Linked DNA regions of Homo sapiens. The protein of the gene in region 2 purifies or fractionates together with the protein of the main gene of each other region. This does not show direct contact. Each region holds a gene or a part of one and is shown on either strand. Other genes may lie near its edges.

Region 1 (3,809 bases), on a different chromosome or scaffold from region 2:
AAAAGCTGAGGACTATGGTATCAGGATTTCCAAATACAAAGGACATCTGTAGATTTAAGGAAATTTTTAGGCAGAAAGTATAAGAAAGTCATTACTTGGAATGGCATACCATTCCTCTTAAACATCTGAGGAAAAATTAAAAGGAAAATGTAGTTTTAAAGACATTTAATTCCATAAGAACTAATTGTCTGCGGCTAGTTATTTGTTCTGTGAGAGGTTTGCATCTCATTTTAAATCTAAAGAATAATTAATTCTTTAAAAAATGGGACCCCCAGGCCAGGCATGGTGGCTCCCGCCTGTAATCCCAGCACTTTGGGAGGCCGAGGTGGTTGGATCACTTGAGGTCAGGAGTTCCAGACCAGCCTGACCAATATGGTGAAACCCTGTCTCTACTAAAAATACAAAAATTAGCTGGGTGTGGTGACGCACACCTGTGATCCCAGCTACTCAGGAGGCTGAGGCAAAAGAATCACCTGAACCTGGGAGGTGGAGGTTGCAGTGAGCCAGATTGTGCAACTGCATTCCAGCCTGGGCGACAGACTCCACTTTAGGATGCAAGCATACCTGTGCAGTGAAGGCCTTTCCAATAGTTCCACTGCAGCGACAAGATACTCTGAAAGTCAAGTCATTCTGATTATGAGTATCAATTGCTTTCTCTATGTCATTCTGAAATTCTTCTTCTTGAAACTTTTCGCTTTTAGTGGTAAAATCTCTTTGCTCCAGAGTTTCTTCTTTTATTTGTTTTTCCAGCTGGCAGTCCCTATTCTCTTCTATCTTTTGCATTTGTTCTATTTTTAATTTCTTTGCAATGATTTCATTTTCTCCCACTTTTCTTTTTAGTTGGTTATCATCTCTCTGAGAAAGTTTTTCCTTTTTTGCATCAAGTTCAAGAAGATTTTTCCAAATTGAAATGGCATTCAACCAACTTCCTGGATCTTCATTTATAAGTCTTTGCATTTCATTAAATATTTTTCCTAAATAAGAAAAATCTTGTTGATCCTCTATTGAAGCTTTAAAGACCATCTATTACAATCATCACCCTCAAACTCAATTACCTTTATTTCCTTGAATTAAGTTTTATTAAATTGCTACACGAATAACTTCACTTTCATTTGGAGTTCATATTCCATTTACCATAAGAATATTGTGCAGAATAAAGTTCATTCTTACATTGCATATATAGCATCCGTATTGTGTTAAAATTCCTATAGAATTACCATATAATACCCTAGAAAGATTATTTGTGCTATGGTAATATATGTATCTCTTCAATATATACATAGACCTAGAGTGTTTATCAATCTTTGAAATAATGGTGATCTTCCCTATAAAAATTAAGTTTTTATAAGAAAAAAATAAACTGAAAAACTCAGCTCAGAAACAGAGGAGCTGAATCTTGGGCCTGTTACATTTTAGCCCACACCATATTAATAAGTATATTATAATGTGTTTCCATAAAGTAACTCACAACCCATTTATAGCTTAGCATACTGCCAGTATGCTCAGCAAAGTTTAATCTCTTCTTGATGAACCACAGTCATCAAGATGATCCAAAATTACTGTATTTCTTTAAGATGAATGTGTGTAGAGTACTAGGAGGAATTATATTGATCCCACAGTATAATACTTTGGGATTTGCTTTAAAACAATTTTCTCTGCTTGGTCTTGATTTCTTGCCATTTGCATCTTTCTTAAAATAGTTTATTATAGGCTATAAATACATGATCTCTTACGTAATTCAAATTGAAGTTTACGGCAGCATTTAATCCTGCAGTGTCTGACCATGTTTTGCTGCTTTTATCAAGATCCATATGTTGTTTTAGCAGCATATTTATAAAATTTAGAGAGTGGACAAGGAATCTCTTATGCCCCCTTTACCTCTAATGCTTGGTAAGTGGGCATAAGTTTATCGAAAACATTTAAGGTCCTAGAAATATAAATTTTTACTATGCAGTATTTTTCCAATTATATCACACAGTTAAAATTTACAAGGTGATGATTTTCACTGATTTACTATTAAAAGAATGCATTTTGGATTAGTTCATGTTTCTAAATCCAAATAAATGCAACTGACCATATATATCTCTAGAGAAGGTACCTGATCATAATTCTCAAAGAAGAAATGTGGCTTAGGACATTAAAATCTCATTAAAAAGGCAGCACGCAGGTTGCAAAGAGAAGAAATATTCTACTACAATCAGGTGATAATATTCAGGAAATACAGAAAAATACATAATTAATGATCCCACACATGTCAATGAATATTAAAGTGTAAAATGGCTACATATTATCAAGCAGAAAATGTTGGAGTACAATGTATCATGTGGGTAAAAGCAACATGCATATGAATATGCCATACCTTTACTTACAGAAGAAATAATAAGTGGAAACTGCTTTTTAATCAGCAAAAATAATCTTTCTGCAGATTTTAATTTCTTCAACATATTCAAATCAGAACAGGTGGTGAAAAAAACCTTTCCTGAAATATATTCAACCTAGAAATAGAAAAACAGCTTTTAATGTAGTCCAGTGTCAGTGAAAAAACCATATTTTTTCCCTCAAGATATAGCATCTAAATTAAAAATAAAAATAACCATTTCTGAAGTATCTACTATTTGTCAGGCTCTGTACTAGGAACACTGAATAAGTATTTTCCTCCTTATCCTTATAACCACCCTCTAAGGTAGATTCGATCACCACCAAAAGTAGACAAAAGAAAGGTATAATGTATTGGACAAATTAGGTGTCTAGCCCAAGATGGATATTTATTGAAGACCTACCTGTAGGCTACCAGGAAGCATAAAACATATATCCTGAATAATAACAGACACACACTGACATACACATTAAAACATAAGATTTATAAGACAATAACTTGAATTAAATCCAGAAGAAAACTAAAAAGTTTTAACATTATAATGCACTGACAAGCTGTAAGTACACTAAGTAGCAATGACTATGAAAGCCGACATTACAAAGAGTCTTGGGAAAGAATCCTGTAAGATTTGAGAAGAAGGATTCTAACAAAAGAACAAGGGGCAGATGCGGAAGTGGGGGTGAAAACCTGGCTGAAGTAAACTGTAAGCAACATTTGCTTTATTATGCTGATTGATAGTGTCAGGTGGATGGATAAAGTAGTTTAGGCCAGCTTGACAAATGGTCATGAAATTTTGAGTACCACGAATGGTAATGGTCAACCATTATAGACTTTTGATGAAAACTGTGACAGCACTGAATTAGCTGGCAGAAAAAATTACTCCAGAAGAGGCATAAAGGACTGAGTGTAGAATGTGATGCTAGAGGGAGAAGTAGGTTACTAAGGTAGAAATGATGAGATACTTGGCTGCAGAAACTAGATAATGAATAGAAGCAAGACATATGCATCAAACAGAAACAGGTTTTGGAGACAGGATGGATATGTGGCAAGAGAAGGAAAATGAAAAGAGCACTGACTCACAGGAAGCCTAACATGCTGTGACAAATGGTGCTCAATACCAGTGGAATCTTAACTCTTTTAGGGTCAACCCAACCCTCTTAAGTCCAGGATGGATGTGGGCTTTCTTGGAATTCTCTTTTTAGCAGTGGCCACCAATTGAATAACATGGTTCTAAATAATCTCCTAGAACACAGACACCAGGGAATGTGGGGTTTCCTGTGTGTTAAGGCAGCTACCATCCATGGGTACTTGAACTCCAAGGGTTTATGCTTGTTTTGGATCTGTCAAGATCTAATTAAGCTCTTGGAATGGTAATTTCTGGGGTTGCTACTCCAGGCTGATGAAAGAGAATCTCTCCTGAGGAAGTGCTAGA
Region 2 (4,578 bases):
GCCAAGGTTGAGGACATGCCCATGGCACAGCCTCAGGAGGTCCTGACAACATGTGCCTGAGGTGGTTGGGGCACAGCTTGGTTTTATACATTTTAGGGAGACATGAGACATCAATCAATATATGTAAGATGAACATAGCGGCTAGCTGCGGTGGCTCACGCCTGTAATCCCAGCACTTTGGGAGGCCAGCGGATCACCTGATGTCAGGAGTTCGAGACCAGCCTGGCCAACATGGTGAAACCCCCATCTCTACTAAAAATACTAAAATTAGCTGGGTGTGTTGGTGGGTGCCTGTAATCCCAGTTATTTGGGAAGCTGAGGGAGGAGAATCGCTTGAACCTGGGAGATGGAGGTTGCAGTGAGCCGAGATCACGCCACCGCACTCCAGCCTGGGTCAGAAAGCGACTCCGTCTCAAAAAAAAAAATTGGTTCAGTCTGGAAAGGCGGGACAATTTAAAGCAAAAGCCATCGGGGAGGGAGCTTCCTGGTCACAGATAGGTGATACACAAACGGTTACATTGTTTTGAGTTTCTGATTAGCCTTTTTTTTTTTTCTTTTCCTTTTTGATCAGTCTTGCTCTGTCGCCAGGCTGGAGTACAATGGCTTGATCTCGGCTCACTGCAACCTCCGCCTCCCAGGTTCAAGCGATTCTCCTGCCTCAGCCTCCCGAGTAGCTGGGACTACAGGGGCGCACCACCACACCTGGCTAATTTTGTATTTTCAGTAGAGACAGGGTTTCACCGTGTTGGCCAGGCTGGTCTCGAACTCCTGGTCTCAATGTGCGCCACCGCGCCCAGCCTTCTGATGAGCCTTTTCAAAGGAGTCAGTCAGATATCCATCTATCTCAGCGAGCAGAGGGTGACTCTGAATAGAGCGGGAGGCAGGTTTGCCCTGAGCAGCTTCCAGCCTGAGTTTTCCTTAGTGATTCCGGGGGCCCAAGAGATTTCACATGTTTTAGGTACTGAATGTCCTGGTTCAACTTCGGGCTTCGCTCTCAGATATGGAAAGCTCTGACAAAGCTGCTTTTTACATCTGTTGGGTCTCAAATGCCTTCAGTTTAAAATAACCTTCACATCCACTCTGGGGTTCCCAGTGGGTCCCCACAGCTCGAAATAACCCAAGGAGGGTCCACGGCGGGTAGGAAAGTCGATCGAAGGCTGGCGGCTGCGGAAACCCAGGGCGGGCAAGGAAGGTCCCTGGAGGGTGATTTTCCGCAACGCAGCGGCGGAAAGTGAGTGGCTTTCAGAGGCGGCAGGTGAGTGGGTTCGAGGCAGGGCTCTGGGGCCGCTTTAGGATATAACGGGATGAAGCCCCCAATGCGAACTTGGGGGCTGGGCAGCGCAGGGCCTCAGCGCCCACGGTCTACCCGCGGCCCGGGCCTTATGTGCGCCTCAGCGAGGCCCAATTTCCACATGCCTCGTTTCCAGCGAGCTGTCGGTGAGTCCCGGCGAGCCCCGACCCCTCTCTAGCCACGGCCTGACGGGTACGGTGGTGACCTCAGCCTCTGACCTCCGACCCCGCGCCGCGACCTCTCGTCGCCGGTCCCCTCGGAGCCGGGCGCGGTTTCCGGGGAACGCGTTTCCCGCCGCACCGTGGGCCGCCCGGACCGCGCAGGACCGGGCACCTTCCGGTGGCGGCGCGGAGCCTTGGGCCCGGCTGCGGCCCGGCGGCGGCCCCGGCGCGGTGCGGGCGTTCGCGGCGCCCCGGGAGCTGCAGGGGCCCCGGGCGGCGGCGAGGCCGGAGAGGGGCGGGCCCGGGACACCGGCACCCGGCGCCCTCGGAGCCAAAGGCGCGCGGCGGACACGGCGGGGCCCTCGCGCGGTGAGGACGCGGAGGCGTGTGGGCTCCTGTCACTTCACACAGCAAACGCTGCCCGCCGCGTGGCTCCGGAGGAGTCTCGCGAGGGGCGCCCCTGTGGCGTTTCGGGCCAGCCGGGCCGCCTGGCCGGGTGCGGAGAAGGAAGCTCTGCCCTTCCCCTGGCCCGGCGCGGAGCCGATTCTCCCGGGAAGGGGCCGGGGGTCCTAACTTCACCGCCGGGCGGCCTGCTCAGGGCCAGGCCCGCGGGGACGCTGGCGTCAAGGTTTCTTCCCCCTTCACGCCAGTCCCCTACCAGGCCGACATCGAGTCCCGCTCCCCAGGGAGGGTCAAGTCCCAGGGGTCCAGCGGCTCCCCCGAGGTCCGCTAGGAGGTGGCGGCACTGGAGTGGCCGTTCTCCAGCCTGCACCGACCCCCGCCTTTAGTGCCCCCGCGTGTGACCCAACGGTGGTACTGGAGCGGCCTTAGAAGGGTGACCGCTGCCTCTGAGTTGAGTCTTAAGCCCCTCGTTGGGCCTGGCTGAACCCCGGGTCTGCGCCTTTCCCCCAGCCTGGAGACGATGCCAAAGCTGCAGGGCTTCGAGTTCTGGAGCCGCACCCTGCGAGGGGCCCGCCACGTCGTGGCCCCCATGGTGGACCAGAGCGAGCTGGCCTGGAGGCTGCTGAGCCGGCGCCACGGGGCACAGCTCTGCTACACGCCCATGCTGCATGCCCAGGTCTTTGTCCGCGACGCCAACTACCGGAAGGAGAACCTGTACTGCGAGGTGTGCCCCGAGGACCGGCCCCTCATCGTGCAGGTGCGCAGGAGGGGCTGTGGCCGCGGCCGCGGTTGGGTTCCCGGTCCTGGAATGCCTGGGGAAAAACCCTTCTCTCTGTGGCGGGACATCACTTTCAGCCTTTCCAGAGACAGCTCAATTCCAGGAGGAGAGGGAGAAGGTGGCACCAGGCATGTAGAGTCCACGTAGCCACAGCAGTGATTCCTGTGGTGGAGCCAGGGCTGCCAGGTGCACCTGCCAGAATCCAACCCCATTCTCTAGGAGTGGCTCAGGCAGCCTGGGTGCTGTGAGGTTTGCAGCCCTGCTGGGGCCTCTGGATTGCTGCCTCTCACACTCACACTCCCTCTTCAGAACCAGTGGAGATGGCTCTGCTCTTCAGAAGTCAGTGATTGTGGCTTCTGCCACAGTTCAGAAGAAAATCTGTAAATCCGGGTGGCTTGGGGACTCCTCCCGGCTTTGTCATATTGTAAGCCTCCGCAGGACAGAGCACCCTCCTGCAGTGAACCTGGGCCCACACCCTCATGGGGTCACACTGGACCTCTCGTAGGGCTGGGCAGCAAGGGACTAGGGCCTGGCTGGGCCCGTGGCTGACTCCTGCATCTTCTCCAGTTCTGTGCCAATGACCCGGAGGTGTTTGTTCAGGCGGCTCTCCTGGCTCAGGATTACTGTGACGCCATTGACCTGAACTTGGGCTGCCCACAGATGATAGCCAAGAGAGGTGAGCTCCATGTGGAGCATGGGGGCACCTGGGGCAGGGGCCAGAGCCAGCTCAGTGCAGCCCCAGGTGTGGTGAGCTTGGAGGACGGCAGGCCCTGCCTCTGTCGTGACAGTGGCTCAGGCTGGAGCCAGCTGTCCTCTGTGCTCCGCCTCTGGAGGGTGGCTGTCCTCAGGCCTTGGGGGCTAGGGGCCGAGCCCTACTGGCTCTCTCTTCCCTCAGGGAGCTCCCTCTGCATAAACATGATTGCTGATACAGGGTCCCCATTACCCCCTTGCACTGCTGTGTGTGGGGCTGAGCCTGCTACCTCACCGGGCCCCTGAGGAGGTGTTACTTGGTTCCAGACCGTGCAGGGTGGGGGTTCCATTCAGCACCTTCTGAGCTTAGGCAGCTGGGCAAATAGAGCCCCTGAGTCTGATGCCGACAAACCACTGCTCTGACTGTCCCACTGCCCCAACTGGAGACACTGCTGGTTCTGGGGACCTGTGTCCCGCCTGACAGGGCAGCTCCTGGCCTGCGTGGATGCAGGAAAGGGTGCAGAGGGGGTGCAAGGCTTCGGCCCCACCAGCCTTAACACAGGTGCCAGCCAGGCCATGCTTGCTCCTTGCAGGTCACTATGGCGCCTTTCTGCAGGACGAGTGGGACCTGCTCCAAAGAATGAGTGAGTTGGCTGGGTGGATGGTGAAGGACCCCCAGAGACCCTCAAGAGGGACACATGGGCACTGTCCACTTGGTTGGGGCTCAGGAGAGGACAGGCGTTGGCAGGAGTTCTCAGCATCACCCTGGGGCTTCCTGCCCACAGCAGCCTCTCTGCTGGAAGGAGGTGGCTGTGAAGTTGCCTGTCCTGCACCACCCACCCCTTAAAACCAGACAGTAGGTGCCAGGGCAGAGTCCTTGCTCGGGCCCAGCCCCAGATGTCCTGGGAGACAGAGCCGGCCTTGGCCCTGCTTGTTTGAACTTCGGAGGGCCGGGGGTATGGCGGAGGGAGCCTGCCCAGCAACCTGAGGGAGACACCCAGATGGTGGCCCGGGCTGCCTCCCAGCCTCCCGGCAAAGCTGCCTGGGCTCCGCTGTCTGCAGGGCCCTGGGCTCTGGGGCTTGGCCGCTAAAGTGGGAACACCATGGCCCCCTCAGAAGCTGCCTCTCTTCTCCCCAGTTTTGCTGGCCCACGAGAAACTCTCTGTTCCTGTCACGTGCAAAATCCGTGTCTTCCCGGAGATTGACAAGACCGTGAGGTACGCCCAGATGCTGGAGAAGGCCGGCTGCCAGGTGAG

The links.
Region 1: the proteins of DUS1L (region 2) and THUMPD2 fractionate together in Homo sapiens (co-fractionation; one large-scale study listed by BioGRID). This does not show direct contact.

What each region holds. Positions count from the first base shown.
Region 1 is NC_000002.12:39,769,146-39,772,954, forward strand, and holds part of THUMPD2 (U6 snRNA (guanine-N(2))-methyltransferase THUMPD2), read right to left. Parts: intron 2,496-3,809; coding exon 2,360-2,495; intron 975-2,359; coding exon 565-974; intron 47-564; coding exon of another isoform or gene 1-46. UniProt on the Homo sapiens protein: Catalytic subunit of the THUMPD2-TRM112 methyltransferase complex, that specifically mediates the S-adenosyl-L-methionine-dependent N(2)-methylation of guanosine nucleotides, most probably at position 72 (m2G72), in the U6snRNA of the major spliceosome.
Region 2 is NC_000017.11:82,062,856-82,067,433, reverse strand, and holds the start of DUS1L (tRNA-dihydrouridine(16/17) synthase [NAD(P)(+)]-like), read left to right. Parts: upstream 1-1,629; 5' UTR 1,630-1,821; intron 1,822-1,919; exon of another isoform or gene 1,920-2,080; intron 2,081-2,364; 5' UTR 2,365-2,374; coding exon 2,375-2,611; intron 2,612-3,199; coding exon 3,200-3,308; intron 3,309-3,915; coding exon 3,916-3,966; intron 3,967-4,460; coding exon 4,461-4,573; intron 4,574-4,578.